7 separate regions of the Homo sapiens genome follow, and regions 1, 2, 4, 5, 6 and 7 are each reported to be linked to region 3. The links are microRNA targets in miRTarBase. Many come from high-throughput screens and were not tested one by one. Region 3 holds a microRNA gene; each other region holds the end of a gene's coding sequence. Distances are from middle to middle.
The links. Region 3 holds the annotated microRNA hsa-miR-196a-5p (UAGGUAGUUUCAUGUUGUUGGG, at 1,232-1,253, opposite strand). A microRNA usually pairs through its seed, bases 2 to 8, with sites in the 3' UTR of a target mRNA and lowers its output. Matches are read on the target gene's strand: a 7mer-m8 pairs with bases 2 to 8, a 7mer-A1 pairs with bases 2 to 7 and ends in A, and an 8mer does both.

Region 1: miRTarBase lists BCORL1 as a target of hsa-miR-196a-5p. The part of its 3' UTR that is shown has no 7-base or 8-base seed match.
Region 2: miRTarBase lists CPD as a target of hsa-miR-196a-5p. Seed matches in the 3' UTR shown: 7mer-m8 at 3,428-3,434 and 7mer-m8 at 560-566.
Region 4: the mRNA of ITGAV is a reported target of hsa-miR-196a-5p. Seed matches in the 3' UTR shown: 7mer-A1 at 298-304.
Region 5: the mRNA of MPP2 is a reported target of hsa-miR-196a-5p. The part of its 3' UTR that is shown has no 7-base or 8-base seed match.
Region 6: miRTarBase lists SH3GL3 as a target of hsa-miR-196a-5p. The part of its 3' UTR that is shown has no 7-base or 8-base seed match.
Region 7: miRTarBase lists MED13 as a target of hsa-miR-196a-5p. Seed matches in the 3' UTR shown: 7mer-A1 at 1,919-1,925.

The regions. Positions count from the first base shown.
Region 1 is chrX:130,055,234-130,059,828 of GRCh38, reverse strand. It overlaps BCORL1 (BCL6 corepressor like 1), which reads right to left. Exons shown (of 14, transcript NM_001379451.1): 14 at 1,758-3,975. The coding sequence ends at 3,693. Among named protein-coding and RNA genes, the nearest start is that of ELF4, 53 kb to the left of the region's middle.
Region 2 is chr17:30,464,286-30,468,880 of GRCh38, reverse strand. It overlaps CPD (carboxypeptidase D), which reads right to left. Exons shown (of 21, transcript NM_001304.5): 21 at 1-4,293. The coding sequence ends at 4,067. Among named protein-coding and RNA genes, the nearest start is that of GOSR1, 11 kb to the left of the region's middle.
Region 3 is chr17:48,631,301-48,635,300 of GRCh38, forward strand. It overlaps MIR196A1 (microRNA 196a-1), which reads right to left and starts at 1,259; the gene lies at 1,190-1,259. It overlaps HOXB-AS4 (HOXB cluster antisense RNA 4), which reads left to right. Exons shown (of 2, transcript NR_046611.1): 2 at 3,251-3,632. It overlaps LINC03057 (long intergenic non-protein coding RNA 3057), which reads right to left. Exons shown (of 2, transcript NR_186590.1): 2 at 3,504-4,000.
Region 4 is chr2:186,676,426-186,681,020 of GRCh38, reverse strand. It overlaps ITGAV (integrin subunit alpha V), which reads right to left. Exons shown (of 30, transcript NM_002210.5): 29 at 4,086-4,208; 30 at 120-3,824. The coding sequence ends at 3,729. Among named protein-coding and RNA genes, the nearest start is that of FAM171B, 15 kb to the left of the region's middle.
Region 5 is chr17:43,874,480-43,878,479 of GRCh38, reverse strand. MPP2 (MAGUK p55 scaffold protein 2) reads left to right here. Exons shown (of 13, transcript NM_005374.5): 13 at 497-3,120. The coding sequence ends at 673. Among named protein-coding and RNA genes, the nearest start is that of CD300LG, 29 kb to the right of the region's middle.
Region 6 is chr15:83,617,470-83,622,064 of GRCh38, reverse strand. SH3GL3 (SH3 domain containing GRB2 like 3, endophilin A3) reads right to left here. Exons shown (of 9, transcript NM_003027.5): 9 at 3,322-3,983. The coding sequence ends at 3,778. Among named protein-coding and RNA genes, the nearest start is that of ADAMTSL3, 34 kb to the left of the region's middle.
Region 7 is chr17:61,942,880-61,947,474 of GRCh38, forward strand. It overlaps MED13 (mediator complex subunit 13), which reads right to left. Exons shown (of 30, transcript NM_005121.3): 29 at 4,038-4,138; 30 at 1-3,721. The coding sequence ends at 3,589. Among named protein-coding and RNA genes, the nearest start is that of INTS2, 17 kb to the left of the region's middle.

The sequences.
Region 1 (4,595 bases), not on the chromosome of region 3:
GACTATCCCTCCTCCCACCAAGACTTGAACAGAGCCTCTCTTTCAAGCCCAAAGAGCGTTCTGATAAGACCCTCATTAACCATAGGTTCGTGAGCTCGGCATGAAGGAGGAACTAATTTTGGCTAAACAGATCTTTATGGTCCTCAGTGTGATGCTCTGTCAGTAGGTGGGTACATTGGCCTCCATTTGGCTGATGGAGCAATTAAGGCTGGGAAAGATTAGGTTCTCGCCCAAGGTCAGCCTAGGTAGTTAGGAGTGGTGCTGGCTCTTTCCTCTACACCATACTAAAAGGACTGGGAGATCATTTAATAAGAGGCCACCAAGCCATCCTCACCCCAATCCTGACCGGGGATGTAGATTTAATGCCACGGCCCATACTTCCTGCCTTGATCTTTCCAACCTGGCAGAAGGGCAGTGGGACTCCAGGTAAGCCGTGGGCAAAGAACCCCAAAAGCAATAAAACAATCTGCTGTTTGGTTTTGCTTTTAACTCCCCTTGTATCCAAGCCTTTGCTCAGATTGTCCTCTCAGTTCAAACACTCTTCCCTGCCACCTCTAATTCCTGCATTTCTACTTTTTAAAGTATCAACTAGGCATCACCTCTTCTAGGATGTGTTCCCAGGGCCCTTGCCCATGCTTCTGAGCTCCCATAGCATCCTGGGACTAGTTGAATTCTTATACTCACCACATGGCTTTATAACCTATCAACATGTCAGATTTCTTGACTTAACTGCAAGTTCCAAGCACAGGATCGACCTGAATTCAGAACCACTGTGGGCTTGTTTGGGAATCTGACAAAGGTGGCTATTGCATAGGGCCTTGGGATCAGAAAGTGGGGAGAGGACGGCCAATGAGGAAGATTAATGCTATGGTTCAAAGAGGATGATGCTTGGACCTGGGTCGAGCCAAGCTTCTGAGGCTTGAGCAAAGACAGCAGCTTAGAGTTCACTCCTGAGGACGGCTGGACTCCAGCCAGCCAGACGCACAGATCCCTTCGCCTCTACACTCTCTAACAGGGCTCTCCAGACTCGAAAGCCACAGTGAGAAGCCCTAAGAGAATAGAGCTTCAAAGGGCCTCATCCCAGGCCTCTCGAACATCCTCTTCCTCTCAGTCACTGGTGCATTCTGGAACCAGCAATCACAAGAATCATAGCTTCTACCACTGTTTTTCAGAAGTGGGAGGAAAAACTGCAAAATCCAGGATGGGCATCTTGCCTTCATGGTAGCTCGGTGGCAGGAAAACAGAACCATGGAAGGCCTGCACCGTGGGTGGGGAGCACTGGCACAACAGTGAGGGCAGTGATGAGGCCATGCAGCCAGATGCCACCTCGGCAGGGTGGCCTAGGGCAAGCAGGGGACTTCCTTAAGGAGGCTTATTCCCACAGCCACCACAGAGAAGGCTACTTCCTCCAACCCTGCTACTCCTATGTAAACAAGGACTGCCCAGGCACCTGCTTCAACCCCAAACCAAAGCAACAGGAGCCAGATGCTCCATTTGCCCCCACTGGCCCCGCCCCCAGGATTTGCCCCTTTCTTTTTCTTTCCAGATCGTGACCCAATGTTCACTAGCCACTCCACCTTGCCTTTATTCATCGTACCCCTTGGGACCCACAGCTGCAAAGCAGGATGGCGGGGGCTCCCCATTTACTGAATCACAATGCCCACCTTCTGAAACCACCAAAAAGTCCCAAAGGGGAGGAGAGAAAAAGAGAGACGGGAGAGAAAAAGAGAGACGGGAGACAGAAGCCCTGACACAGGTTTTTCAGTATGCAAGTGTTTTTGACTCCACAGCCAGTTGCTTAAAATGAAACATAAAGGGCAGCCAGAATATACACCCAAATGCGAAAAAAGGAAAGGCAAACAGAACATGAAATAAACTACACAATACCAGGAACCCCAACAAAACCAACAAATTAAAGTCCAAAACCCCTCAACTTTATATATATATATGTATATATATATGTATTTTTTTTTCTTAAAAAGGGAAAACAACTGTTCAAAACCAACTGGGCAGTATGGTGGGGGTGGGGAGCAGTCCTACAGAAGGGGGCCGAGAACTTCCCCCCCAGGAACAAAGAACAAACACAATACAAAGAAAATAACCACCAATGCTCCCGCATGGCTCAGGAGCCTCTAGAGAACAGATTGTCCCATCCTCAAACTGGCTTTTTTTTTTTCCTTTTTTTTTTAATCTTTTTTTTTTCCATTTTCTTTTTTGTTGTTGTTGTTTTAGCACCTGTACAATAAAACTGTACCATCTCCAACCAGAGCCGGCCACGGCGAGGCCCTCCTGCCTTTGGATGGTACATACTCTACAAGGATTGTTCGGAAAAATAGCAATTGGTAGAAAAATAAGAGTGGGAGGGACAATGCCACAGAGGGGGCGGGGACAGGGAAGCAACCCAAGCTCCTCTCTCTCTCTCACTCGACAAACCCAGCGCTGGAGGCCCAGAGGCCAGGGGGAGGCCAGGTAGGGATACCACTCAGCCCCAGGCCCCCAGGCATGAGTGGAGCAAGGGCTGGAGACCACTTTCCTGCCCTTGCCTAGGAAACAGCTGACGCCTGGATTTCACATCCGGCAGTGAGTCCCAGAGCCCTCTGCAGATTCCCAAGGAGAATGAGGGGCTGAGGGAGGAGGTGGGAGGAGAGGAAGGAAAGGGGTGCTGTGAGTCTCAGAAGGGGCAGGGATGGGGGTGGCTGAGGGCTGGGAGGTGAGAGGCTCAGTATCTTGAGACAGGGAGGCCAGAACGGGGTGGGAGAGTGGAGGCAGGAACAAACTCGTATTGTGCACTCTGAGGGGGGCAGTGAAGAAGGCGTGAGGAGGGGGGCCACCCTCACCCCTCAGATCCCTTCTCCACGCTCCTTTATTAGAGTAACTTATTAACCCCTCACCTCACAATCCTCCCCTCCCTGTCAACACTAATCTCAAGATAGCGGGGCTGCTGCAAAGGGCGGGAATGGGTGGGTGGGGGAGCACCAAAGCCTCAGGATTTACCCCCAAGCCCCCAGCCCTGGGCCAGCAGCAACCAGCTTCGTTAGTCACAAGTCCATGTTCCCCCACCCCATTCCACCTCACCCCCTCCCCAGTGGGGGAAAAAAACACCAGGGAATAGCTTTGTCAGAGCTCATCAACAAAGAAAAAGAAAAGGAGGTACAGAAAGTCCCTCAATACAACAAGTTGTCTCAAATCGTCACAGTGATACAGACTTATCAGAAACCAATGAAACAATACAAATTAAATACTAATAAAATAAATACTACAGAAGACAGAAGAACACAGGGGAATGGAGTTGGGGGGCGCTCAGAGATCTGGGATTTTCTCATTTCTCCTCGGGACAGGCCAAGGCCATCCAGGGCCCAGGTTTGGTCTTGGTCATGAACAAGGAGGCCAGTCCAAGGGACCCCGGCGCCACCTCCCACCACCCCCGGGACCTCTTGTCCTCAGACATGGAGTTCAACTTTCCACCCCCATCAGCAACCACGATAACAATGACGACGACAGGGAGATGAGAACTAATTGTAACCAAAAAAACAAAAACAGTCCAGTCGCTAATGCTGGCATTGATAAGGCGGCTTCTTGTTGGTCCGTATTATTGCCTCATTCTGCAGTCTGGTGCTCGGTCGGGGAAAGACAAGGAGGTGGGGGAAGGGCGAACTCGGAAGGAGAAAGAAGAGGAGGGGCTGTTTTCCCGGTCAACTGTTGCAAGACTGGAATTCCACCTCGGACCCTAGGAGCCGAAGTAGGTCTGGCTCGTACCGCACCAGCTCCACAGTCTCAGAGGAGCCTGGGGGGGATCTGTCGTCCAAGCCTCCAGGCCTCTCGGCAGGGGTCAGCAGCTGACTGGAGGCCACCTGCCTGTAGAACTCGGCCTTGGGCATGGTGGTGATTTCAAAGTGCGGGAACCGGGCCTGAAAGATCCTCGAGGAAAGCTTCAGCCTCTTCAAGACATCGGAAAAGAGGAACCAGTTGCAGGGCCTGCAAAGGCAAGGATGGGAGTTATTGAAGGAGGCTGGAGGAAGCGGTGGGGGCACCGACCCAGAACACTCTGCAAAGCCCACAAAGGCTGCACGACCATCAATGTCTCCCATTATAACTCACTGCCAGTCTGGCTCCCCCGTCCCCTGCTAAACCACAGGCTCCTTGGGTATAGCTGAGGCAAATGTCTTCTCCTGTCCCCTGCAATGCCTGGCCCGGCTTTCAGCTAAATGGTGAGCACGCAATCAGTGACCACCTCTTCCAAAATAACACAAACAGGAGGCAAAGGGGCATTCTAGAACCTAAAACTCTTAGCAGGCTTCTTGGGGACTTAGCCTGCGCCCCTGTGACCTGGCATTTGCCATCTGCTGGGACCAGTCTTTCCTCCGACTCCCGCCCCTGCCAACCCTGGCTGCCTTCCCTTCTCCTGTTCTTACTCTTGCTTCCCTGGCCTCCTTGCTCTCCAAGATCTTCCCCAGCAGAGGGGGAGCCGTGGAGAAAGGCCTAAACTGCGGGTAATCCAAAAGGCATTTCTCTTTGGCTCTGGAATGCATTAGACAAGTTTTTTCTCCAGCAGCAGCACCATCGTTTCTGCAGGGCCAGAGCTCACATTACAGAAA
Region 2 (4,595 bases), 18 Mb from region 3:
TTCAGAAACAAAGCTTTCTTTTGAGTCAATTCATAAATACAGAAACATTCCATAGGTGATACCCTGTATTCTGATCCTGGTACTATTTTTCCACTAGCATAGGCAGAAAAACTAAATAATTTTCAAACTGGACCTATAACTTTTTCCGGCATATTGCATCTGAAAAAAGATTATGAGACAAAACACAAAGAAAGACAAACATCGTAAAATAACTTTTATACAGGATTAGTAGATCTGTTTACATATAAAAAACAGAAAGGACCTCATTACAGTTAGATTTCACATAAATTACAAATTGACTTTTAAAAACTACTATTCAACTTCATTTAAAGTCCCTTTTAAAAATTTCATTTTGAAGGCACAGTGCATGAAATAAACCAAAGACTGAAGCACTTGAGATGAATGGGTGTTGGGCACCTCACATAAACAGCTGTAGATTGCTCTAGAACTGGGAGTATCACTTGGAAAAACTGGAGAGGTGAAAAGCTGATTTTTAATCTGAGCATAAAAAAATACTATTGTCATACCTCCAGAAAATCTGTAGCATGGCCAGCATAGAAGGTAGTTAGTACACTCATGTTATGCCATTTATAAAAATCATAATCATACATATTTACATAATTTATATCCAACTGCCTCAAAATGGTAACCTACTTTCAAATTTCATAATGTATGCTGTCAAATCAAAATCAACCAGGACAATATTCTGAAAATCAAGTGGAATCATTAACGAATTATTGCTAAAAATAGGATAAATGGGTATTGGGAGAGATTTCTTCATGAACTAGAAATCCAAGTTCAGCTGACATTAATCAAAGACCCAAATCATATCCCCAAAATTTTAGCTAAAACAAATCAGAAACCCAAAGAGTTACCAAAAAAGTTGCTATAGAAAATCACTGAACATCAATCATAGTGGAATTTTTGGTAATAACAATAAAACAAAAATATATTGGAAATCCTGGGTTGTCACTGTTAAAACAATTCCACCAGAAAACCATAATGTAGGGCACTATTACAGAATTCATTGCCAAGAAGCTTTTCATACAGCAGGGACAATACCTGGCACAAGTGCATTTCTGGCAACAACAAGATAAAACTATTTAATGTTGAGAATAAATGGAAATGGAGGAGCAGGTCATGGTTACTGAGTAACCTGGTGTTAGCTCAAACACAATAAGCTCAGACATAAACACTACCTTTTATTTATTTGTCAACTCATAATTAGTTTTAAATTCAATAGTCATTAATTCAGCAAATCCCATTCAAGTAAAAGTTACCAAAGATAAAGCAATCAATCACACTGGGCCAAATATACAATATGTTTCCTTTCTGGAAGATGACAAAGTCCCAAAGCAAATCCCTTCAATGAGCATTGCAAGCATTCCTCAACTGGATAGGATCCCACTCACTACCCAAGTGTTCAGCAAAATGCATCAAAACTGAAGGGTCTTTCTTTCTGAAATGACTTGGGCACATCTTACTGAACTACATAATCAATACAAGTACATGTACACAGGCAGACACTTTGAACATTACCTACTCAATCACTTTGCTTTTATTAAGGAGCTGGGAAGGAAGAAGGCTTACAAACTGATCACCAGGACAAAGCCCATGCCTTGTGAGTAAAGAAAGGCACAACTCAGATTTAGGCAAATTTCTTAATACTATGATACTTACTTGCCGCCATAACTCCAAGGAAATGGAAAGTCTCTCGGAGAAACACTGAAGAAATGCATTCCCCATCCCATATGGCTTCAATGCCTTAAGCGGTTAATATATTCTAATATTAGATTAGACCCGCAAATAAAAGACAGGGCAGGGCTGAGAATATAGTCTTAGTAGTCAGGTATCCTATACATTCACGCTTCTAGGTAATACAAGCTGGGAAAGTCTTGTTTTCCAGCTAAATGCATTATTTAAAAGTTCATTGAAGATCAAGACTTATAGCAGAATTTGGTTTTTCTTTCAGGAAATATTACTAAAATAACTATGTGTATGTTCATTTCTTTAAAAATTTTACACATGCTTAAAAGGCATGGCCTCCAGCCACTGAGATGTACAGTTAAAGACATATTTGATCCAAGAGAGAAGTACATGTAAAAGGTATCCTCTAGTGAAGACCAATGATAACAAAGCAAAGCTTGTCACATTAACTTTGTTTCACTTGCTGTAATGTCCCAAGCAGGGGCAGCCACTCTTAGGCCCCTTGTTGGTTTCCTGACTGTACTCTTAAAAATAAAGCTGAAAAAGAGCAATACACCACCATCCTTAAAGAAAACATAAAGATTATTAGAAATTAAATCATGTATACTTCACTAACTATTAGCATCCCACAAGCTCTGTTCCATGTATGAGGTGGCAGAATTTACAGTTGCTAATACCAGAATACCAGAATGGCTTAACCTTGAACCACGGATTTATCACAGATACTTATTAACAAATGACATGACCTCATTATTCTTGCTAAAGAAAATCTTCTTTTATAAAGCCACTTTGAATGCATTCCTCACAAAACCTGGTTGAACGACCTAGGAAGGTGGTAAACCCCTCCACCTGAAGGCTTTGGGATAACTGATACATTAATGGATATAGAATACAATTTGAGAAGATAAGAGCAAGTTTTTTGGTCCCCTGATTTAGTATAAGTTCAGCAGCAACTTGGTTATTAAAACATTCAAAGGTATTAAACCGTTACATCATTGGTAAGATGCATACTTACAAAAAGCATCATTTCCATTGCATGATAAGACAGACATAATAAAATGCAAATCTTTCCGGTCTTTGCCTGATTGGCAGTGAAGATGACACTTTCACACCACAGTGTTTTATCACTCAGCAGTCATAGTTTACATTTTTTTTCAAGGGAGGAAGCTATACTTAAAAGCTTTCGACTGAACTTTTAGAAAAATTGGTTGATCAAAAAGAGACCGTCAAATGAAACATTAGGGCAAAGAACCAAATCACTCCCAGAGGCCTATGTGAACAAGACCGGTCAAGCGATTTCAATAATAGTATGCTATTACAGGGTATAGGCTTGGGCTGGAGCATGAAGTATAGATATTTTGTGTTCAAATACAGGTTAAGAATGTGCAAGTAGGTCTCTTCCACATTTCTAGATATTTTCAGTAGAATTCAGATCTTGTAGATGGCTGGGTCATCTGAAAACCATGTGTGCAACATAGAAAAAGGTTCCGATTTAGGCAATATTAAAGAATCAGGCATTCCTAGAATAAGCTAGTGCTTCACAGATATAAGCAGCAGCACCTGTGGGTTTTTACCAAGTTCAAAGATAGACAACATGAGTTTTAGCTTTTGCTAGATCTCTCTCTCAGCTTCATTCAAGTGGGCATTTAGACCTTTCACAATAAAGTTAGTAAGTTCTCCCTTAAAATGGGCTATTTAGAAGTTTGCTAAACCTTAAGAGAGGTAGTGAAATCCTGCTTACAGCGTAGTCTACCAGTTCCGATCTAGCCTTGGAACAGGTAGAAAGCCAAATGCAGAAGCCCATTTATTCATTTCCTACTGTTATATGTGTTTAAAAATCAATTCAACCTCCATTAAACCTGAATAAGAAAAACTCCAGCTATTTAACAACTAGAGAAAAGTACTCCTCAGTAGGTTGAAAAAACCTTGAGTTTTTAAAGCTTTATGTCGATTCTGACTGCTGTCCCTGCCTTAATGTTTCTGGATTCTTTTGGCCATTTAAAACAAAGAAAAATACTAAAGCCACTAGTAAACATCTGATGTGCAAAATACAACATCCTCTAGTTGGCTTTATGCCATTATTACATAAGCTCCAAATAGCTCATCTTAAATTAAAAAGAAAAAGTGGCTGTCCCATCTCTGCTGCATAAATCAGATTTTTTTTTAAAGGTTTAGAGTACTTTAAGGAAGGGAAGTTCAAAACTGCCAGTGAAATTCACAGAGAATACAAATTTAGCAATTTAATTTCCCAAAGCTCTTTGAAGAAGCAAGAGAGTCTCTCTTCTTAATGCAGTGTTCTCCCAAGAGGAACTGTAATTTTGCTTGGTACTTATGCTGGGAGATATGCAAAATGTGTTTTTCAATGTTTGCTAGAATATAATGTTTCCTCTTCAGTGTCTGTTTCATCCTGGAACTCATGGCTTAGGAGGGACTTCTTGGAGCCGGTAGACATCATGCGAATTTCATCTTCATACTCATCATGATGCTGCCTGAGCCGATGAAAGCCATCCTTGTGTCTATTAGACTTGATTGAGCAGATGCACCAAATAATGCAAGCTGTTAGGATCAATGCCGACATAGTAGCACCTGACAAACAAAAACCATCATGTGGGTGATATTATACTTTAAGGATATTAATAAGCAGCCGCTTACAATGGAACTTTTAATAATATACCCCTCATTTATTTTATTTCTATTTCATGCACTTAAGAACAACCTTTATTATTATAGAAGCAGTATATGTACAATATACAAAGTTTAAAAATACAGATAAGCAAACTAACAAAAGCCAAAACCAAAAAACCTCCTATATTTACATTTCCATTACCCAGAGATCATTTTTAGTTATAAGATCTTTTGTGTGTGTGTGTAATCCTCCCACCTCAGCC
Region 3 (4,000 bases):
CACCCAGACCAGAGGATGAGAAACTGTCAAGGGACAGAGTTGTTAGCCTTTGCTTATCAGGACAGTGGGTTGAAGGCTCCATTTCCCCTAGGCTAGGGGTGGGTCTCCCTAATGCCCCTCTGCTCTAGCAGAAGCCCCTTGTTCAGAGACCCCCTGGCCCTCCAAGTCAGCCTGGCGCCGAAGCCCCATCCGGTCGGGCCTCTTTCCCGGGCCCCTTTGCACATTTCCTCTGCCTCAAGCAGCAGGGGGAAGGTTTGGGAACAAAAGTTAGCTTATGCTTTGGAAAGTCCCCCTTCTTCCACCAGCACTTCTAGTTATTCCTTTCCTGGGCACAGGGCCAACAGCCTTAAGAGGACCGAGGTCAGAGAGGGTATCAGAGTCTTGCCCTGCCCAACCCCTGGTTTCATCCCTTGTCACTGCATCAGTCGGGGTTGAATTGTCCAACAACCTGGGCTCCCCATTAGCTTGCAAGTCAGGCCCCTCTCCAAGGAGGTGGCACTCAGGACCTATGTGTACCCCCAGCCCAGCCCAAGGCCAGTGGGAAGCCTTTGGCCACTGGGGTGGGTGGGGAGGAAAAAGTCAACTGAGGGATTAGGAAAGGAAGGACTTTTCGGACCTACTTCTGTAGGTCTGGTCCCATAGGGGGCCTTCGACAGGACCCTGAGGGCTTTAGGCTGAGATTGCAAGAGCTCTCAGTGTTTGCCTTTCAGAATGAGACCTACTGAGCCCTCTTCAAGGACCTGAAGCTTCCTGCTGAGGTGGAGCACCAGCCCGCAAAGAGTTACAAAAACCTCAAGAACCCCCTGCATTTCTTTTGAAATCAAATATTTGTGAAGTTGGGGAGAGTTTCTCTGGAAAGTTCTGGATGTAGTTGAGAGCTCAGAGACCCTAAGGCTGGAAGTTGGAGCTCTGACTGCCATCTTTGGGTTGGGCTGAACAGCCCAACAGGGCCAGGGAGGTGCCTCGGGAGAGTTGACTGCTCCTCATCCCCCTTCCCCTCCTAACACACACACAAAAAAACATTCAGAAGTGGGAAGACACTTCCCAGATCTCTTCTCTGGGGGAACATCCTTGTTGCTCCTGGATGAAGGACCTCAAACCTCTTCCCCATTTTGCAAGGTTGATCTTCCAGTCCTGATTCTGCTCCCCTCCCCCAACTCCTCCAGCTAAGCAAGGAGCAGTAACTGCCGTGAATCGGGTGGTTTAATGTTGTTGTGTTCAGAAACCCAGGCCCAACAACATGAAACTACCTAATTCACTCAGCAGTTCCAATTCAAGCTCTAGGTCAAGAGCTCACTGGGGGCAAACCCTGTGGCCATTTTTTTGTGGGCCAAAAAGCGGCTTAACTTCATTTTGCTCCACCTCTTCCCCAACAGAAGAACCCAGTTGCTACTAAACAACACATCGGAAGAACTGAACCCAGGACTCTAGGTAAAACCATTTTGGAGCCGGTCCTGATAGCTCAGATTCCAGAGACATTTGCTGCCTTCCAGGAGCCCTGGCCAGAGAAGAAGACCCTAGACACAGGCACAAGCCTGGGCAGGGCCTCTTTGATATACCTGCTCAGTCTCTGCCTCTCAGCCCAGCTGGAGGTCTCCACAGATAAAAAGAATTCTCAACTTCAAACAGATACGAAGGTGCATCTATACTCAGCACCCTGCTAGCCCCTGTATTCCAGGTCACCCAGCCTCCCAGTGTAGCTCTGAGAGGCCAGATCTTCAAGTCCTACACACCCCCCAGCTTTGAGATTGGGGCTCAGACAGGAGAGTGAGACAAAAGAGTGCTGAGAAAGAAAGTGACAGAGAGAAAGGTGGAAAAGCAGAGTGTCAGAAAGTTTCGGGAATTCTAGGGAACAAACAGAGGAAGAATGGGATTTGGAGGGGAAAGCCGGTTGATCTGAACAGTTGCTGTGAAGGCACCCTGCCCAAAATGTCCCAGGGCCCTGGCTCTGCAGAGGCCGAGCTGCCCCAGGTAAGACAATTCATTCCGAATCTTCGCAGAATAAGGACTGAGAGGCTAAGGACTGGGATTGGGACACAGAGAACAAATTTGCTTCCTCCTTCCTGACCTTCGGTCTGGGTCCTTGGCCCCCTAACGTGCCCGCTCCTCACCTCTGCCTCTCCAGACACCCGCCTGCTCACAGGTGCTCACGCTCACACCCGCACCCATCGCAAAAACGCAGCTGTGCAGGCCGAGGGCGGCGGCGGACTTACCTGGGCGGCGGCGGTGCCGGCAGTGCGCGGCCGTCGGAAGGTGCGGAGCCAGCGGCCGCGGCCCAGTCCAGGCTCCCTCCCGCCCTCGCCCAGAAGCGAGGGTCCGAGTGGCCACGTGTCCGGCAGGGAAGTCCGAGGTAGCGAGGGAGTCCACCTGGCCGCCCGCTCCCCCTCCCGGGTATAAATCTTGGGGACCGGAAATACAATAAAACTTCACCGTGTTGATGAACTTCAAACGGTTTACATCCCCTCCTGTCCTGAAAAGAAAGACGTCCGGGGGCGGATTAAAAGGAAGGGGAAACAAATTTACGAGCGGCAGAAGCACCCGCCTCGGCCCCTTTCTTTGCCCGCACACTTTGTCCGCGTGGAGAGAAGCAGCCCCAGCCCCCGGGACTTGGCCTCCGCCGAACCGGCCGCCAGGCGCGCTCTTCTCTCGGAGGAGTCGGCGCTGACCCAGCCCGCGCCCGGCAGAGACTGGAAGCCGCCGCCTACACGGAAAATCCACAGAGCCCCGCGCAGACCCTATGATCGGCTCGGCCCGCCGGGCTTGGGATGAGGCTCCCTGCTTCTCGCTAGAGCAGAACTGGGCTCCCTGGCGCTTCCTTGCGAAAGCCCAGGCTCTCCCAACCACGCCCGGTGGCCTCCATTTTTTGCATCTTTCCGCTGAAAGCGGGTTTTTTCTTTTTTCTTTTTTTTTGACAGAGTCCTGCTGTGTCACCCAGGCTGGAGTGCAGTGGCGCGATCTCGGCTCACTGCAACCTCCGCCTCCCGGTTCAAGCGATTCTCCTGCCTCAGCCTCCCGAGTAGCTGGAACTACAGGCGCCCGCCACCACGCCCGGCTAATTTTTGTATTTTTAGTAGAGACGGGGTTTCACAATATTGGCCAAGCTGATCTTGAACTCCTGACCTCGTGATCCACCCTCCTCGGCCTCCCAAAGTGCTGGGATTACAGGCGTAAGCCACCGCGCCCGACCCAAGGGTTTTTTGTTTTTGTTTTTTGTTTAACTTTACTTTTCTCTTTCCTTTTCCGTTTCTAGCGGCCAGACCTTTGCCCAGCCCTGCCCGTTTATTGCCGGGTACTTGCTGGAAGGGGACAGAAGATAAGACTCGGGGTGACTCCCAAGGCCTGAAGGGGGCTGATTGGGCCGGGGGCTCCCAGAGGATAAACCTAGGGGCCGGTCGGTCTTCCTCGGCGTGGAAGTGAGAGCCACGCGGCGTGGCGGAGCTCCACCACCGTCTCCTTATCTCTTTAAAGCCTCAAAATCAAACAAAACCACTACTACCCAGGCCTCAAGTTTCCACAGTTTTTGTCTGCTCTGGACCGTTTACTTTTTTTGAAAAAAGAGAACTTGGTGGAATCCAAATTCTCTACTAGGCCTCCGAACCAAAACGAAGGAAAATCCGTTTTCTTCTTGGGCTTCAGAGAACTGGGATCGAAGTGATTGACTTCCTGCTCCTTTTGTCTGCTCCAGGGGCCTGGTTAGGTGCCCTTCTGGATGGGAGAGCAAAAGGTTCTCCATCCTGCCTCACAGTTATTCACCTCCAAAACAGTTTTGAGACACAATGGATGGCTAAGATTAGCTCAGGCTCAGGCAGAGTGTTCAGGTACAGGAGTGAGGTCCAGCTGCAGGCCCAAGAGGGGGTTTAGTGCACTGAAGGCACCCACCTTCCCATAGATACACACATAGATAACCCCACTCCCCAACCCCAAGAAAAGGCACCAAAGTGCTGCTGGATATTTTAAAAATCTGATTAAAAAATAAACGGGCAGGGAAAATACTAGGCAG
Region 4 (4,595 bases), not on the chromosome of region 3:
AAGATTTGAAGTTTTACAGAAAGTTACCTCTGAGGTCATCCTTTTAGTGCATTATTGCTAGCTCATGTAATCAAAAAACAAAAACACGTCACAGAAAGGATAAACCCCATACACAAAAGTGGTACCATATGCTTATGTTTATTGTACAGTCACAAGTTACATGTTGTAAATCAAGCAGAACACTGTACCAGTTTTCACTAACTCAAATCAAGTTAGCAAATTACAAATTTTAGAACAGATTCATTTTCTGTCTCACCCAATGTGGGTGACCACAAAGATATTTACTTTCTATGTTATTAGGTAGCAAATTAATTTGATATACTACACAGCTTCCAAGTTACCTTAGGATATTTCAAAGTGTTTCAAAACTGGTAAAGAATAATTCATTTCCAGCCTGAAATACAATGCAGAATGGACCATTTAGGGGTAAATAACCTCACTTAATCACTCTTTCCTGCTAACAAAAATAATACAAATATTTGTTTATATTAGGCTTACTAAATTAATGACAACTTTGAAATTATCTAGATTTGGTTACATTGTTATATTGCACTTGAGAACAATGACAAAAAACATCAAAGATTCAGTACCTCTCCCAAGAAGTTCATTATATATCAGAAATTAAAATGAAATATAAGCATATATTGCATGCTGCATATTTCTATCGTTCAAACCAGCCAACCAACAAACTAAAAGGAATACTCTCCAAAACACTGAGTATTAAGTAATTTCATCTGCCTTTTTTGATCCTACAATCATTTTTCAAATTTTAGGTGTTTTTCTTTAAATTATTCATCAAACTACTACATATACAAGCTATCCAAGAATGCAAACAAGGTGACATTGAGATGGGTAGTGGCTGCACATAGGTATTCCAAGAACGACTCATTCTTCTCCACCAAGCTCATCATTACATTTTGCAACTTAGGAAGATCTGCCAACTTACAAATTCTGTTTGCCTTACAAAAATCGCTGATCTATTATATACAATACTTTTATCACACAAATCTCTCCCTTAGGGTCATGATTCACTATCAAAAATCTTTCACAGCCCTCTTAAGCCAGTAAAGTCTCTTTTATTAATACTTGAGTTTTCTTTATGGAAATGTAAGTGTTAATGAGAATTAACTATGAATAAGTAGTTTCATAACACAGGTAGAATGATGGCAATAATATTTTGACTAATTGTTTTACCTTTCAGATTCAGAATTACAGTGATAATCGTTAAGAGAAAAGAGAAACAGAAAAAATGACTCACATGTATTTTTCTCAAAATATCAATTCTGAAATAAATACCTATATAAAAATCAATATCAGTATCAATATTTCTTACCAATGTCAAATGTTTTTAATATCTTCTAGTTCATTCATGTTTTCTTAAAACTGAATCAGATCATAAAAATTTTACATTTCAAAATGGATTTTTATTCTCAATAAATCACAAATATGGTAGTATTTCAAATGTTTTAGAGATTTAAAGTTTTCATAGGGCAATTTTTTGATATTTAATCATGATAAAAAAAAATCCCACCATTTTCTTCAGAAAGTAGGCTTTCAAATTACTCTTCTCCATATTTTTGTAGATATATAAATGTTCATTTTTTGAAGGAAAATCTATGCTATTATACAAAACTATATTTCATAAAGGTAATTTAAGATATCATGTTAATTTCTAAATTACAGCATCTTTCAATCTCCAATACAAGATTACTTTCAAGATAGATGCCATAAAAGGAATAGATGGCACAAAAGCAAATTCTAACACTTTTGCCAAAGAGTGACTTTCTATCCAACATATTTTCAGAAATGACTGTTACTAGGTGGTAAAACTGTTAGGGTAAAATTTGTTATAGACTAACTTACTGATTGGTGGCAGGCAACACTTGGCCCTAGGATAAAAATATTTTTCTTAAAAAATTTTAAATTTATTGGTAATAAAAATACTTACTGCATATGATTAAGCTCTTTCAAGCTACTAATAAAAATCTATACTCCAAGACCCATTACTTTTGAAATTCACTAAAGCTAAAATAGAAGGTTTTGTCTAGAGTCCTACCTTGTATACCTCAACTAAATGTGCTCCTATTTTACGAATATATTCTCAAGATTAGCTCAGTCAACTTGTGCATGAAATTATGAGATATGGCAAGATAAATTTCAATCATTTTTAAAACACAGCAAAATAGTCAATTATTTAAGGGAAATATTTATCATTACCTAATGAGGACAGCAGTTAAAGAGCTATTAAACTCTCCATTTCTAATGTACAACATGATGTAATTGCACAAAAATAGGTATAACTGATCATCATCCCCAGGCCTTGAGGAACTGTGAATAAATCATATATTCCTCTAGAAGGTTCACCACTCTACAGAGCCATATAAAACTACAACTTGCCACCTATGTGGCTTTTATTAATAATCCTAGAAAAGTAATTTATACTAACGAACTTCAGAAAGGTTTAAAAGGTTTTCAGTAACTTGAACTGCTTATAAAAATACCTTTTAGAAGTTATTCTGACAGCCGAGACTGATTTTACACATTACCTTGCTTAAACAGAGGTAATATTCCTGTAACATCATGCTATTGCTAGAAGTAAATCAGTGAGTTGCCTTAAGAGTTTTTATTCCAAGCATTACTCATAAAGTTGGGGTAAGGGGTCCAGGTTCCTGTCAACTGTAAAGATTTCTCACTGATCTTGACCCATTCTCAGTAACAGTTTTGGAAATATAAGGAAAAGTACATGAATGGAGGAAAATAAATTAATACTAACTAAAAACTCTGCTCTACTCTAAGAATGTAATACTTACTATATGCATAAGCAACTATCTCAAAGAACTACACAGTATTTTAATAAAAATGCTTTTTTTATACTGTAAATAGCCAGACTAAAACAATGGAATAAATATGCTTTGGAAATAATTTCCAACTCCATATGGCTTTAAGCATTATGATATTCAGGTGAAATTAAACAATTACACAAAAGAGCCATTTGTGATTATGGAACTAATTTTTAGTATAGGTTGGCTTGAAGGATTTGACCTAAAATTTATACAAGTTAAAAATGTAATAAAATATTGTGGATTTAATATAAACAGAAGTGTAATAGGATCTACCAGATTTTCATACTAAAACAAAATATTGTACCTTTGTTATTAAAAGCAAGAATTTGGATGGTATCATGTATGTGTTTATAAAATTCTACCATATGAGTGATTAAAAAAATCCAAGTTCATGCAGTTATAAAGTCTTTAGTATTCTGAAAAGTAAACTGTAGTGTAATATGTATTAACATTAAGTACCTATACAAAAGACATGATTGCTAAGGTCCAAATTTGGACTGCTTTAAAACAACAACAACAACAACAACAACAACAACAAATAAAGTTCCGTACATTAAATCAGAAACAGTAACTGAAGGAGGTACTATTTTATATAAAGTAGTAAATCAGGCACTACCTGTCTTATATACATTGAATAAAAACTATCCCTTGAAATTTTATTATTTAAATACCTAAAAACACAAGTCACCCTATGTTATTAAATGTATGTCTGAACTTATTTATAAGGAGAAGGTTGACAAATATAATTCTCATTTTGTGGTTAATGCCAATTAGCACTATCAGCAGTAAAGCCTTGGATTTTTACTCCTCATGAAGAAAGTTTAAATCTATAATAAAGTTGCTAATTCTAGTGGGTCAAGATGTAGCATAACTTAAAAACTGCAGTTAAGTTTCTGAGTTTCCTTCACCATTTTCATGAGGTTGAAGCTGCTCCCTTTCTTGTTCTTCTTGAGGTGGCCGGACCCGTTTAAAAAAGCCCATCTGTCAGTTGAAGAAAAACCATTATTACTGTCACATCAGTGTAGAATACGAAAAGTATTTTTTGGGTGACTATATTACCACTAAGAACATTTAAATTGTATTTCATAAAATTTATCTTCCCTCATATAATAAGTAATGCTCATCAAGTATCATCATTACAGTCCCTTTCTTCCTTCCCTTACTTTTCATTCTTCTTTTCCTTCTTCCCTTTCCCTTTTCTTCTGCTTTCCCTCTCTCCTTCTTTCTAAGTCCGTTACTTACCCTGTACATTACAAATACCAAAACAGCCAGTAGCAACAATCCTGCTAGAACTGCTAAAATGATCACCCACACAGGCACAGGCATGGGCGCTGGCTGAATGCCCCAGGTGACATTAGTGGTAACCTATCGAGGAAAAAAGCTTTTAGTTTTAAAAACAGTCCATTGACTTAATCAACAAATATCTGAGTAAATATTATATTTTATTTTAATGGAATTCACAGTATATTCTTTTCCTGCATATGATAATTTAGTGGTTTCACATTTGATATCAAGAGCATGCACATACACACATGAAACTCCCAATGATAGGCTGACTTCTGATTGCATCTGACATGATTTGTTTTCCTTTTTTTTGACAGAGTCTCGCCCAGTATGTAGGCCAAGCTGGAATGCAGGGGCATGAACTCGGCTCACTGCAACCTCCATGCTTCAGCCTCCCCAGTAGTTGGAATTACAGGCCTGCGCCACTATACCCAGCTAATTTTTCTGTATTTTTCGTAGAGAAGGGGT
Region 5 (4,000 bases), 4.8 Mb from region 3:
CCCTGCCCATCCAGCTTCCACTGGGTCGAGGGTGGGGTTGCCCTGGGTACTTGTGGATTGCCCTGGTACCAGCCTGTCTAGCTGCATAGGTAAGGCAGCCTAGTCAGACTTGAGGGAGCACTGGCTTGAGAGTCAGGCAGACCCTGTTTAGCCACTGACTGGCTATGTGACCTTTTTATACCTTCATTTTCTCTGCTATAAATGGGAAAGAATTAATCCTATCTTGCAGAGCTGTAGTGAAGATTATGTGGCATGCAAAGCATTTAGGGGTGTGATTGGCAGTTATTAAAGCTTATTTCCTCCCTTTCACTCACCATCTGTGGTTGATGGTGAGCCACTTTGAGGCACGCAGAGAGGGGCCCCTGCCTCCCTAGCCAGGGAGTCCACACCAGGGTTGGGCTTTGGGGAGGGGGAGTGGGGGCAGCTGTAGCTCCTTCTGACAGTGGGGGTGAGTTGTGGGCACTGACTGTAGGGAGGTCCCCTTGTGCCTGGGCAGGAGGCGGACCTGAGACGGACAGTGGAGGAGAGCAGCCGCATCCAGCGGGGCTACGGGCACTACTTTGACCTCTGCCTGGTCAATAGCAACCTGGAGAGGACCTTCCGCGAGCTCCAGACAGCCATGGAGAAGCTACGGACAGAGCCCCAGTGGGTGCCTGTCAGCTGGGTGTACTGAGCCTGTTCACCTGGTCTTTGGCTCACTCTGTGTTGAAACCCAGAACCTGAATCCATCCCCCTCCTGACCTGTGACCCCCTGCCACAATCCTTAGCCCCCATATCTGGCTGTCCTTGGGTAACAGCTCCCAGCAGGCCCTAAGTCTGGCTTCAGCACAGAGGCGTGCACTGCCAGGGAGGTGGGCATTCATGGGGTACCTTGTGCCCAGGTGCTGCCCACTCCTGATGCCCATTGGTCACCAGATATCTCTGAGGGCCAAGCTATGCCCAGGAATGTGTCAGAGTCACCTCCATAATGGTCAGTACAGAGAAGAGAAAAGCTGCTTTGGGACCACATGGTCAGTAGGCACACTGCCCCCTGCCACCCCTCCCCAGTCACCAGTTCTCCTCTGGACTGGCCACACCCACCCCATTCCTGGACTCCTCCCACCTCTCACCCCTGTGTCGGAGGAACAGGCCTTGGGCTGTTTCCGTGTGACCAGGGGAATGTGTGGCCCGCTGGCAGCCAGGCAGGCCCGGGTGGTGGTGCCAGCCTGGTGCCATCTTGAAGGCTGGAGGAGTCAGAGTGAGAGCTAGTGGCCACAGCTGCAGAGCACTGCAGCTCCCAGCTCCTTTGGAAAGGGACAGGGTCGCAGGGCAGATGCTGCTCGGTCCTTCCCTCATCCACAGCTTCTCACTGCCGAAGTTTCTCCAGATTTCTCCAATGTGTCCTGACAGGTCAGCCCTGCTCCCCACAGGGCCAGGCTGGCAGGGGCCAGTGGGCTCAGCCCAGGTAGGGGCAGGATGGAGGGCTGAGCCCTGTGACAACCTGCTGTTACCAACTGAAGAGCCCCAAGCTCTCCATGGCCCACAGCAGGCACAGGTCTGAGCTCTATGTCCTTGACCTTGGTCCATTTGGTTTTCTGTCTAGCCAGGTCCAGGTAGCCCACTTGCATCAGGGCTGCTGGGTTGGAGGGGCTAAGGAGGAGTGCAGAGGGGACCTTGGGAGCCTGGGCTTGAAGGACAGTTGCCCTCCAGGAGGTTCCTCACACACAACTCCAGAGGCGCCATTTACACTGTAGTCTGTACAACCTGTGGTTCCACGTGCATGTTCGGCACCTGTCTGTGCCTCTGGCACCAGGTTGTGTGTATGTGTGTGCGTGTGCACGTGCGTGTGTGTGTGTGTGTGTCAGGTTTAATTTGGGGAGGAAGCAAAGGGTTTTGTTTTGGAGGTCACTCTTTGGGGCCCCTTTCTGGGGGTTCCCCATCAGCCCTCATTTCTTATAATACCCTGATCCCAGACTCCAAAGCCCTGGTCCTTTCCTGATGTCTCCTCCCTTGTCTTATTGTCCCCCTACCCTAAATGCCCCCCTGCCATAACTTGGGGAGGGCAGTTTTGTAAAATAGGAGACTCCCTTTAAGAAAGAATGCTGTCCTAGATGTACTTGGGCATCTCATCCTTCATTATTCTCTGCATTCCTTCCGGGGGGAGCCTGTCCTCAGAGGGGACAACCTGTGACACCCTGAGTCCAAACCCTTGTGCCTCCCAGTTCTTCCAAGTGTCTAACTAGTCTTCGCTGCAGCGTCAGCCAAAGCTGGCCCCTGAACCACTGTGTGCCCATTTCCTAGGGAAGGGGAAGGAGAATAAACAGAATATTTATTACAAATGTTAGAATATATTTCTTATACTAGGAATCTCATTTGCATTTGCATAGACTATACACATGGGGTGGAAAGGCCAGGCCTGCCCCCATCTCGTTGGTGTGGCTCTGCGTATACTACACACTCATTCTCCTGCTCCTCTTTTCCCTTAGTCAGTGTCCTTTCATCCTGATTCAGCTCTGCCTTGCATCACCCTCAGCCTAAGGGAGTGGGAAGGAAATGGGGTGTTTTCTTGCTGACCTGAGGCTATAGGGTCACTTGCCATTTCCTACCTTCTCTGGGGGATTTGAGGGTAGAGGCAGGGGAAGATCTGTTGTTGCAGCTGCTTCTGCCCCCTTGATCCAAATGACCATCATCTCTGATGGAGATGGGTTGGGTACCTGGCCTTCATGGCACCTTCACTGCTAGGGATGCTCAAGGGGCAGGCCTGGGGCCCTTCCCTCCTGTCTCTTCTCGGTCTTTCCTCTCTGAGCAGCCTCCTACCTCCCCTGCCTGAGCCCTCACTCCACAGCCCTCCCAGGTACCTAGCAGAGGCTGTCAGTCCTTGGCTCACCTGGAACAGGGCTGGGGCTGGGTTGGAACAGGTGTGTGCCCCCACCACAGCTCTATGACTCTGTTCTCCCTCCCTGCCATTGTGGACTCTTGTATTTGAGGGACCTCAAGAGAGTGAGGACCCTACCATCCACTGTCCATATTCAGTCCCAGCCCCAGTGCGCTTCCTCTGTTCCCTCCCTCAGCCATCCAATTCTTGAGTTTTCTCACTGATTGGTTTTCTTTCTTTTTCCTTGGATTAAATGTGAAAGCAAAGGCTTCTGGCTCTGCTTTTCTTTGGTTGGGGTTGGATGGATGGCTTTGGGAGAGAGTGAGAGCTGGGGAGCACAGCACAGATGACTACTAGAATGGAAGTCAGAGCAACATGTCTTGTTTTCTGCGATGTCTTCCTTTCCTCTGTCTTGCCCCTGCACACTCCCCCATCCCCAGAAGATGCTCCTTCTAAGTGCTTGTACCCAAGGACATGAACAGACATTTCTCAAAAGAAGACATACAAGTGACAATGTATGAAAAAGTGCTTTACGTCACTAATCATCAGAGAAATGCAAACCAAAACTACCATGAGTTACCATCTCACACCAGTCAGAATGGCTATTAAAAGGTCAAAAAATAAGAGATGCTGGTGAAGTTGCAGACAAGAGGGAGTGCTTATACACTATTGGTGGGAACGTACATTAGTTCAGCCCCCGTGGAAAGCTGTTTGGGGAGTTCTCATAGAACTACCATTCATTCCAGCAATCCCATCACTGGGCATCTACCCAAAGGAGAAGAAATCGTTCCACCAAAAAGATACCTGCACTTGTGTGACTGTCACTATGGGACTGAATGAAGGAGGATGTACGCCACTTGTGACAGTTACTACAGGACCGAACAAAAGAGGACAAATGCAGAAATGAAAACAAGACAAAAGAATCTGCTTTAAAGAAGGGGTCCTTGCTTTTGCTTCTAGTGAGCAAGGGCCCTGAGCTTCCACAGCCCTCCATATTTATTGGGTAGAAAGAGCAGGGAGGAGCAGGTAACCTTTGGTCAGCTGCTTGATTTATCACAGGTTCACATAATTGCTGACAGGCTTCATGTGTGCCTGTAGATAATCACAAACACTGCGCCTGAGGTGTGACTGCCCTCAGCATTCCTT
Region 6 (4,595 bases), not on the chromosome of region 3:
AGAGTTAGCCATTATTATTATCATTATTTGATTACAGACACTGAATGTAAAACTGTTCTGGAGAAGTGGTGTGTGTGTGTGTGTATAGCTGGCTGGAGGGAAAACATATTGTTGTGAATTTAGTGATGTACCGTGGAATCAGAAGACTGGGGAACCTGGCTTAGGTTACCTGATTTAGGTGATCAGTCTGGCTTCCGGGCATTTGTTACAAAAGTCAGTGATCAGCAGTGCCTTTCCAAGTGACTTGGGTGAACACTTAAGTGTGCAGTGAGGTACAGCAATCTGATTTCAAACTCTGCCTCTGCCACAACAGGGTTACGTCTTTTCATTGCACTTCACAGGTATAGTGATTTTTAGAAAGGTTTGTAAACTCTTCGAAGGTTTGCGGTAACCGTTTTTATCGGCGTTATTTTTTCAACAGCATGTGCTTTCTGTCTCTGTCACACTTTGGTAATTCTTACAATATATTAAACTTTTTCATTATCATATCGGTTATGTTAATCTGTGATCAGTGATCTTTGATGTTACTATTTTAACTGTTTTGGGGCACCACAAACAATGCCTATATAAGATGGTGAACCTGACTGATAAATGTTGTGTGTGTTTTGACTGCTCCACTGCCTGGCCATTCCCCCCTCAGGCTTCCCTATTTCCTGAGATACAACAATATTGAAATTAGGCCAATTAGTAACCCTACAATGGCCTCTAAGTGTTCAAGTGAAAGAAGAGTCACAGGTCTCTCACTTTAAATCAGAAGCTAGAAATGATTAAGCTTAGTGAGGGAGGCTTATTGAAAGCCAGGGTAGGCTGAAAGTTAGGCCTCTTGCCTCAGTTAGCTAAGTCGTGAATGCAAAGAAAAAGTCCTTGAAGGAAATTAAAAGTGCTGCTCCAGTGAATACATGAATGATAAGAAAGTGAAGCAGATTTCTTGCTGATATGAAGAAAGTTTGAGTGGTCTGATGATCAACCAGCTGCATTACCTGAAGCCAAAGCCTAATCCAGAGTTGAGAGAGGTGAGAAAGCTGCATTAAGAAAAGTCTGAGGCTAGCAGGGGTGGGTTCATGAGGTTTAAGAAGCCACCTCCATAACATAAATGTGCAAGGTGAAGCAGCAGGTGCTGATGGAGAAGTAAGTTATCCAGAAGATCTAGCTAAGATTATTGATGAAGCTGGCTAAACTAAACAACAGATTTTCAATGTAAACTATAGCCTTACATGGGAAGATGTCATCTGTGACTTTCCTAGTTAGAGAAGTCAATCTCTGGCTTCAATGCTTCAAAGGACAGATTAACCTGTTAGGCGTTAATACAACTAGTGACTTTAAATTGAAGCCAATGCGCACTGACCATTCCAAAAATTTTAGGGTCCTTAAGAATGATGCTAAATCTGCTCTGCTTGTGCTCTATAAATGGAACAAAGCCTGGATGACAGTATGTCTGTTTATAGCATGGCTTACTAAATATTTTAAGCCTACTGTTGAGATCTACCGTTCAGAGAAAAAGATTCCTTTCACAATATCTCTGCTAACAATGCACCTTGTCATCCAGGAGCTCTGATAGAGATATGCAAGGAGATGAATGTTGTTTTCATGCCTACTAACATAACATCCATTCTTCAGCCCATGGATCAAGAAGTAATTTCTATTTTCAAGTCTATTACTCAAGAAATACATCTTGTAAGGCTACAGCTACCATAACTAGTGATTCTATTGATGGATCTGGGCAAAGTAAAGTGAAAACCTTCTGGAAAGGACTCAGTATTCTAGATGCCTTTAAGAACATTTGTGATTCATGGGAGGAAGTCAAAATATCAACATTAACAGGAGTTTAGAATAAGTTGATTTCAACCCTCTTGGATGACTTTGAAGGGCTTAAGACTTCAGTGGAGAAAGTAATTGCAGATGTGGTGGAAATAACAGGAGAACTAGAATTAGAAGTGGAGACTGAAGATGTGACTGAATTCCTGCAATCTCGTAAAAAAGCTTGAATAGATGAGGAATTGCTTCTTACAGTTGAACAAAGAAAATGATTTCTTGAGATAGAATCTACTCTTGGTGAAGATGCTGTGAACATTATTGTAATGGCAACAAAGGATTTAGAATATTACATAAACTTGATAAAGCAGTGGTAGGATGAGAGGACTGACTCAAATTTTGAAAGAAGTTCTGTGTGTAAAATGCTATCAAGCAGCATTGCATGTGACAGAGAAATCTTTTGTGAAAGGAAGAGTCAACCCATACAGCAAACTTCAGTGTTGTCTTATTTTAAGAAATTGCCACAGACACCCCAACCTTCAGCAACCCCACCCTGATCAGTCAGTGGCTATCAATATCAAGAACTTCCAGCAGCAAAAATATTACCCCTTGCTGAAGGCTCAGATAATCATTAGCATTTTTTAGTAGTAAAGTATTTTAAATTAAGGTGTGTAGTTTGTTTTTTTAAGACATATGCTCCTACCCATTTAATAGACTACAGCATAGTGTAAACACAACTCTTCTTAAGTACCAGGGTACATGTGCAGGATGTGCAGGTTTGTTACATAGGTAAATGTGTGCCATTGTGATTTGCTGCACCTACCAACCCATCGCCTAGGTATTAAGCCCGACACGCATTAGCTATGTTCCTGATGCTCTCCCTCCTCCCCTCCCCCAGCAACAGGCCCCAGTGTGTGTTGTTCCCCTCCTCGTGTCTATGTGTAAGCACAACTTTTCTATACACTGGGAAACCCCCAGAATTTGTGTGACTTGTTTTATTGCAATATTTGCTTTATTGCAGTAAGTAGCCAGGAACAGAACCTGCAATATCTCTGAGGTGTGTCTGTATGTGGTCGTTTGATCCTAGGTAAGTCAGTCAATGAGGCTCCTTCTTTTCAAATGGGAAATAATACCTGCCCCTTCACATAATAGGATTGTAGACTCCAGTGGGCCAAAGCATGTAACTAGTGCGTACTGTAGGCAAGGCCAGGGGCTGGTTCACTGAGCCTAAGAGGATGTTATTGGGGACTCAATCAACTCTTGACCACACTACTTCCTGAGCACCCATAACACAACTTTCTGAAAAACCTATCCAAAATATGGCAGCAGCAGAAGCTTGATTTGGGGTCTTTTATAAATAAACTTGAAGGTAAGTAGAAGGGCTTTCCATCCCCCAGCTGGAAGGAGGATTCGTGTCATGTTTGAATCAGGTGGAAAGCGAAGGCTCCCATCAGGAGGCATCATCTAAGCATCTGCGCTGTGACACTTCGGTTGGCCATGGGGTGTGAGTTTGCAGCTGGAAGACTGTGCTTAAAAATCAACAATTCAACATTAAAAATAACCAAGGCCTTTTGCCAACACAGTGTGTCATGTTTATTGGGCTATTCACAGGTAAGCTTAAAATACAATGAAAAGAAAAGACCAGACGTCATCAGGAATGTCGAGAAACAAAATATTTAGCATTTCTTAGTTTCAAATGTTACCATTTCATTGCAGCTGAGGAATATAGGCCATTCGTTGACATAACTGCAATGGGTGAGACTTATTTTTAGCCACAGGAAGCAAATACATTTAACCAATGACTTTTAGGACAGGAAGCAAAAAAGAAAATATTTTCATGTAGCAAGGACAAGAAAATCATTTATACAAATTAAAGTGATATAAAATACATTATAAAGAGAGCACACATACAAAAGTCATTAAGTTGGTCAGAGAGCAAAGGATGTCACAGAACACCGCACTGAGAGCACACTGGTGTGAATTCATTTCAGTTACGAAAGTATGTCCAGAGTTTGTGTTACACATTTACTGAGGTAAAGGCACGATCACTTCCACGTAATTAATGGGGAAGAATCCCGATTCTCCGTGTATCATTCCTTCATACCAGTTTTCATCTATTTGATTGGTTAATGTAATGATGTCCCCTTCTTTAAATCCTAATTCTCCTTGGTTTTCTGGCTCAAAGTCATAGAGACCACGACAGCAGGGCTGGTCCATGGGAATGTTAGAACCTGTCCACATGATATGGAGACAAAAAGTACAGATGAACATGATGGATTATCCATGGGAAATTGGAAATGTGGAAAAGCTCAGAGAGACCCTTAACAGCAGGCCTTGCTTCCTTCCCACAAGGCCAGCTCCACCCAGCTCACGGTGCCGTTTGTGGTCTCTGGCTGCCTCAGCTCTCCCAGCTGCCTGCGCCAACCCCATGAGCCCAGAGTCTATCTTTTCAATACTCCCAGGCAGAGAAGTCGTGCCCAGCCCATCTCCCAAAAGCAGCCAGTCAGCTCCACCTGGAGCCCTAAGGGAGCGACAGAGGAATCACAGGCCCACCTCCTTCTCTCTGGGAGCTTACAGTTTCTTTGTGGGGATTAGAAAATACACGAGAAACTTTTATTTATTTATTTATCTATTTTTGAGACAGAGTCTTGCTCTGTTGCCCAGGCTGGAGTGCAATGGTGCGATCCTGGCTTACTGTAACCTCTGCCTCCCAGGTTCAAGAAATTTTCGTGCCTCAGCCTCCCAAGCAGCTGGGACTACAGGCATGCGCCACCACGCCCAGCTAATTTTGTATTTTTAGTACAGGTGGGGTTTCACCATATTGGCCAGTCTGGTCTCGAACT
Region 7 (4,595 bases), 13 Mb from region 3:
GTCCAGTAATGACGTTACAATTTGTAGCTTAAACTCAATAACTTTAAGGTCCACATATCCAGTTTACTTTGAAAACTAAAGATGTTTTAAAACTTCATGAATACATCAACCTGAGGAGTATTTTAGGTCCCAAATCCAGTTTTTAAATTTATACTCCACAAAAAAGAAAATACATACATAAAAATTTAAACCACAGTTCTGGGCCCATTAAAACACCAAAAAAGACCCCCCAAAAAGTTAAGATTTCCAGCTTATTTCTGGAGGGGTGGGACAAAATAAGAATGTATATTAAAAACATTTTTCCTTAATTCAGACAAACTAAAATCTTAAGAGGAAACCCAGACCAAAATATCACTCATGCAACATTAAGTGTATTAACTGATTGATATGCAATGCCATAGTGGATGAATAGCAAATTATATGATGCAATAGCATTTAAAAACTTTTTAATCTATTCAATTTGAACATTTTAAATAATGCAACATAGTATTCTGATATTACAGTATTAACATAGTGCTTGATTAAAGATCTGCAAATCTTTGTAGTAACACATTAAGTTAAAAAATTACCTCAGAAGGTAAATATGAAGACGAAAGGAGAATATTTTAATACAGTAATCTGTGCCATACTGACAATTGAGTACGAATACAGCTGAGGATAGTTGACTAAGTAGTAAGAGCTTAATTTTAGTGGTTTAAGAAAAGTTTAGAAATATTTAAAAATTACAGCTACTTTAAAATTTAAGGATTACATATAAGTACACTTGGTGGCCTTCTGGCCAAACAATAAGGTGTACAGAAATTTATTCATACAGTGTTAATTCACAGTCCTGATAACTCAATGGCTTGCATAAGAAAGGTATGGCTAGATGTTTCTCACTGGCTGGAAGCAGACATTATATAACTAATCTTTTTAAATGACAAAATACTGAACTTCCACCCTGCTTAATAATCATGGATACCTGCACAAAAAAAAAGATGTTAGCACTGTAACAAAGAAGTCAAGGTGTTGGTAATCCACTGCTATAAAGTATAATATTTTGCTTACCTATTTAAACAAAACTACCCATATTTGTCTGTGACAGTACATTAGTAAGTCAAATCCATCATCCTGCACAAGGCTTAATTTCTCAAATAAGTCTACTGAGCTTTTCTAATGGTTATTTAATAACTTTCCATTGAGTTTGAATGGATATATGAAGGGAAGAAAAAAAATCTTATCAATAAATCCTGTATATTTGGGAACTATTCCCTGATTCCCAAATAAAAAATAATTGTGTACTGGGTTCCCTCCTTATGGCTCCATATTAAATAACCTGTCAGGGAATAATTTTAAATCTACTTTCAAATTGAGGTGTGGTTATCATAGGTTAGTGATTTTAAACAACTGAGAATATAACTTTTATTTTGTAAAGTCACTATTAAGTGTATAAAAAGGATACTCTTTTTATGGAAATTCCAAATAAGCACATTTTCCTTCAAATCTCAGACAAGTTTTTTTTTTTTTTTTAAAGAAAGTACAGAACAAAACATACCAACATAATGTGTGGTGTATTAGCATAATTTAAAAACAAATGCAGAGAGGTGATCTTTAAATTTAATATCAAAATATGCTGACCATTAGAACTGCATTATAATTTTGAAGAAATGATTGACAACCTTTGTCACCAATTGTGTTTGCTTCATAGAAAAAACAAGACTTGCTAATGTTTTCATATACACAATCTGAAGAAGTTATGTTGTTCATAAGAAAGTGATATTTAATTCTAAGCACAGAGTATTCACAAAAACAAGTTTCAGTAAAAAAAAAAACTAAAACAAACACTGAAGTAGAGTTTTGTAAATACAACTGATTTTGTCCTTGTAGATAATTAGTGAACGTACAAATAGAAATTTTGCTAGACTGCTTCCAAGAAAGCTAGGTAGACTCGGCGACTGTGAATTCAAGTCAGCAATGCAGGTAGGAGGCGAACTTGGGCTCTTTTGTGAGCAGCACTGTAGAAAGGATTTTTCAAGGGGGTACAGCCTGCATAAAAGCAGTTATCTTGGCATGTGCAAACAAGAAGGGGGAAAGTTGTATTGAAGGAGGGGTGAATTAAAGTCCCTAAAATTCAAGTCCCTTCTTTAGGGAGGTGAGAACCTCCTTGGCATATGCCCTACCTTAATCTGAGCTGTGTTATAGAAAAGTACAGACTCTGGTGTTTGGGACTGACATCTCCAAACCAAGAAAATTAAATAAATAAAAAAGGCAAGGGAAGTTTAAAAAATGGTTCTTTCACTAGTGGAATAGAGTCTGAATACCAGAATTCACTGAGAATCTATTTACACCACAGTTTGATTGCGCGCACACACACACACCCATACATATGCATACTCTCACATACATTCCCAATCTTTAATTTAAAAAAAAAAGTCAAACAATCAAGAATGACTGCTTGAAAAATAATTTGTAAAATGCCTAGAGCTGGGCTAAATTTCAACCTTATAGCAGATCCTGAAAATAAATTTCATAATAATATTTCCATGCCTAAATATGCCACTGTTAAAACTGAAAAAAATTTAAGCATGTAACATTAAACACTAAAATTAGTTTAAGCATTCAGTAGCAAATGGTTTTTCTTGTAAAACTAAGTTTCTTTCACCGGAAATGGCCTGAAATATTAGTCATAGCCCTAAACCATAGTACAAAATATAACTGAAGAATTCTCATTTTATTCTAAGTTAAACCACCTAACAATACCACTTGTATATTGCCATCATGTTATTCTGTAAAGATGTGATATATAAAATGCTGTAAGACCTGGTACCTTTTCAATTTATAAACACAGTGAACTTCATTACTGTACATGTACTCTGCAACTACAGCTTAGCTGTAAATCCTCCACACACAATGGTATGGACATTATTCCCCCTCTATCCCCGTTAAACTGTACATCGAGACAATACAAATTTACTGTCCCACCCACCCCCTTACAAAAAAATAATACTCTAAAAGCAACCCTACTGCAACTTTTTAATTAAGACGATTACATATATTTTAGACCAATTGCTTTAAAGCAAGAAGGCAGTATAAACCTTCTAGGAAAATTTTTATAAAAGAGGTTAAGAAATATAAGACAATTTATACATTTAAAAACTTACAATAAATAAGAGAAGAGATGCAGGCATTTTTGAATACTAGATACTATAATCCATACAAGAACATCTTCATGTTCTGAAGCCATATGTTGAAATTCATTGTTCCTCATGTTTCCTCTCCATGCTTTTAATATTCATTTAACATGACTGGGTACTATGGCTCATTACTTTTCACAAATACTGTGACTGGAAAAAAAAAAGGTTAATTTTGCTACGAAAATGTTATAATACGTTTTGTATGATCAGTCATCATCCTAAAGAGTTCAATAGAGTCAATGAAAAATAGCAGGGTTATAGCCCCTCCCCCCAAGTCAAAACAATATTTGTTGAAGTAATAAGAATTAGACCCCATCACAAATGACCTTCACTGAGAAGATAATTGTAACTTAATCCTGCAGCGAAACATCCATTTTTCCTTGTTCTTTTCTTGCACAGTTCCATCAAATGAAGATCACAGCATATTCATAATAAAGTTATATAACTGATTCAGCACCACAAAATGAATTGGGAGACATGAGCGTCTGTCCTGGGTTGCAGGGTCACAGGTTAGCCAGGAGAGTGCATTGTACTGTTCCAAAACAAACCTGAAAAGCAAATAAACTGCATAAGTCATTTATTTATTTCCAACCTAGATTTTGGAAGCAGTTTTCAATTATGGCATTTAAGACTCAAAGTCACCTTAAAAAAGAGTGTAACAGAGAGTCCTTGAGGGGAAAGAAGCAATTTCCATAAAAATTATTCTCAAAAGTAGATTACTCAAGTTAGAATAGCAGTGTTTATCTAGAGATCCACTGGTACACAACTGTAAATTCTTGCCAAAAATGAGAAAAATATATAAGAATCAACATTATATTCTTTTAAAGTTGCAGTGACAAACTGTTAATGGTAAAAGAGTTGTACCTGAGGACATCTGAAGTCTGATTTGAGTCAAGTGGGTGGGAGTGTTTACTGTGAAGCAGCTCGTCAGATTGCACTGAAGGCACGTGGAGGTGCAAAGAGGCCTAAGAAGGTAACAGGTAATCAATCAGTCAGCCAAACAGAAAATAATCTGCTATTTAGTTTTACCTTATTCTCCCAATATATCTTATAAAATGATGAAATACATTTTAGTCCTATGTTATGAATGAAAGCCACTATAAAAATGCTTGTTCTCTTTTAACTAATTCATTATAGAAATGTTTTTTTTTTTTTTTTTAAGTAGGGGCAGGTTCTTGTTCTGTTGACCAGGCTGGTCTTGAACTCCTGGCCTCAAACAATCCTCCTGCCTTGGCCTCCCAAAGTGCTGGGATTACACGCATGAGCCACTGTGCCTAGCCAGAAGTGATTTTTAAGTGCAAAACTTACTTTGAATCTATTTCCTTTTCTTTAGCTTTATTGTTTTTGAGACCATACAATAATCCTTAGAAAAAGAATTTCTAATTACCTGCTAAGTCTAATTTGCCTAGATGTGCAAAGTAA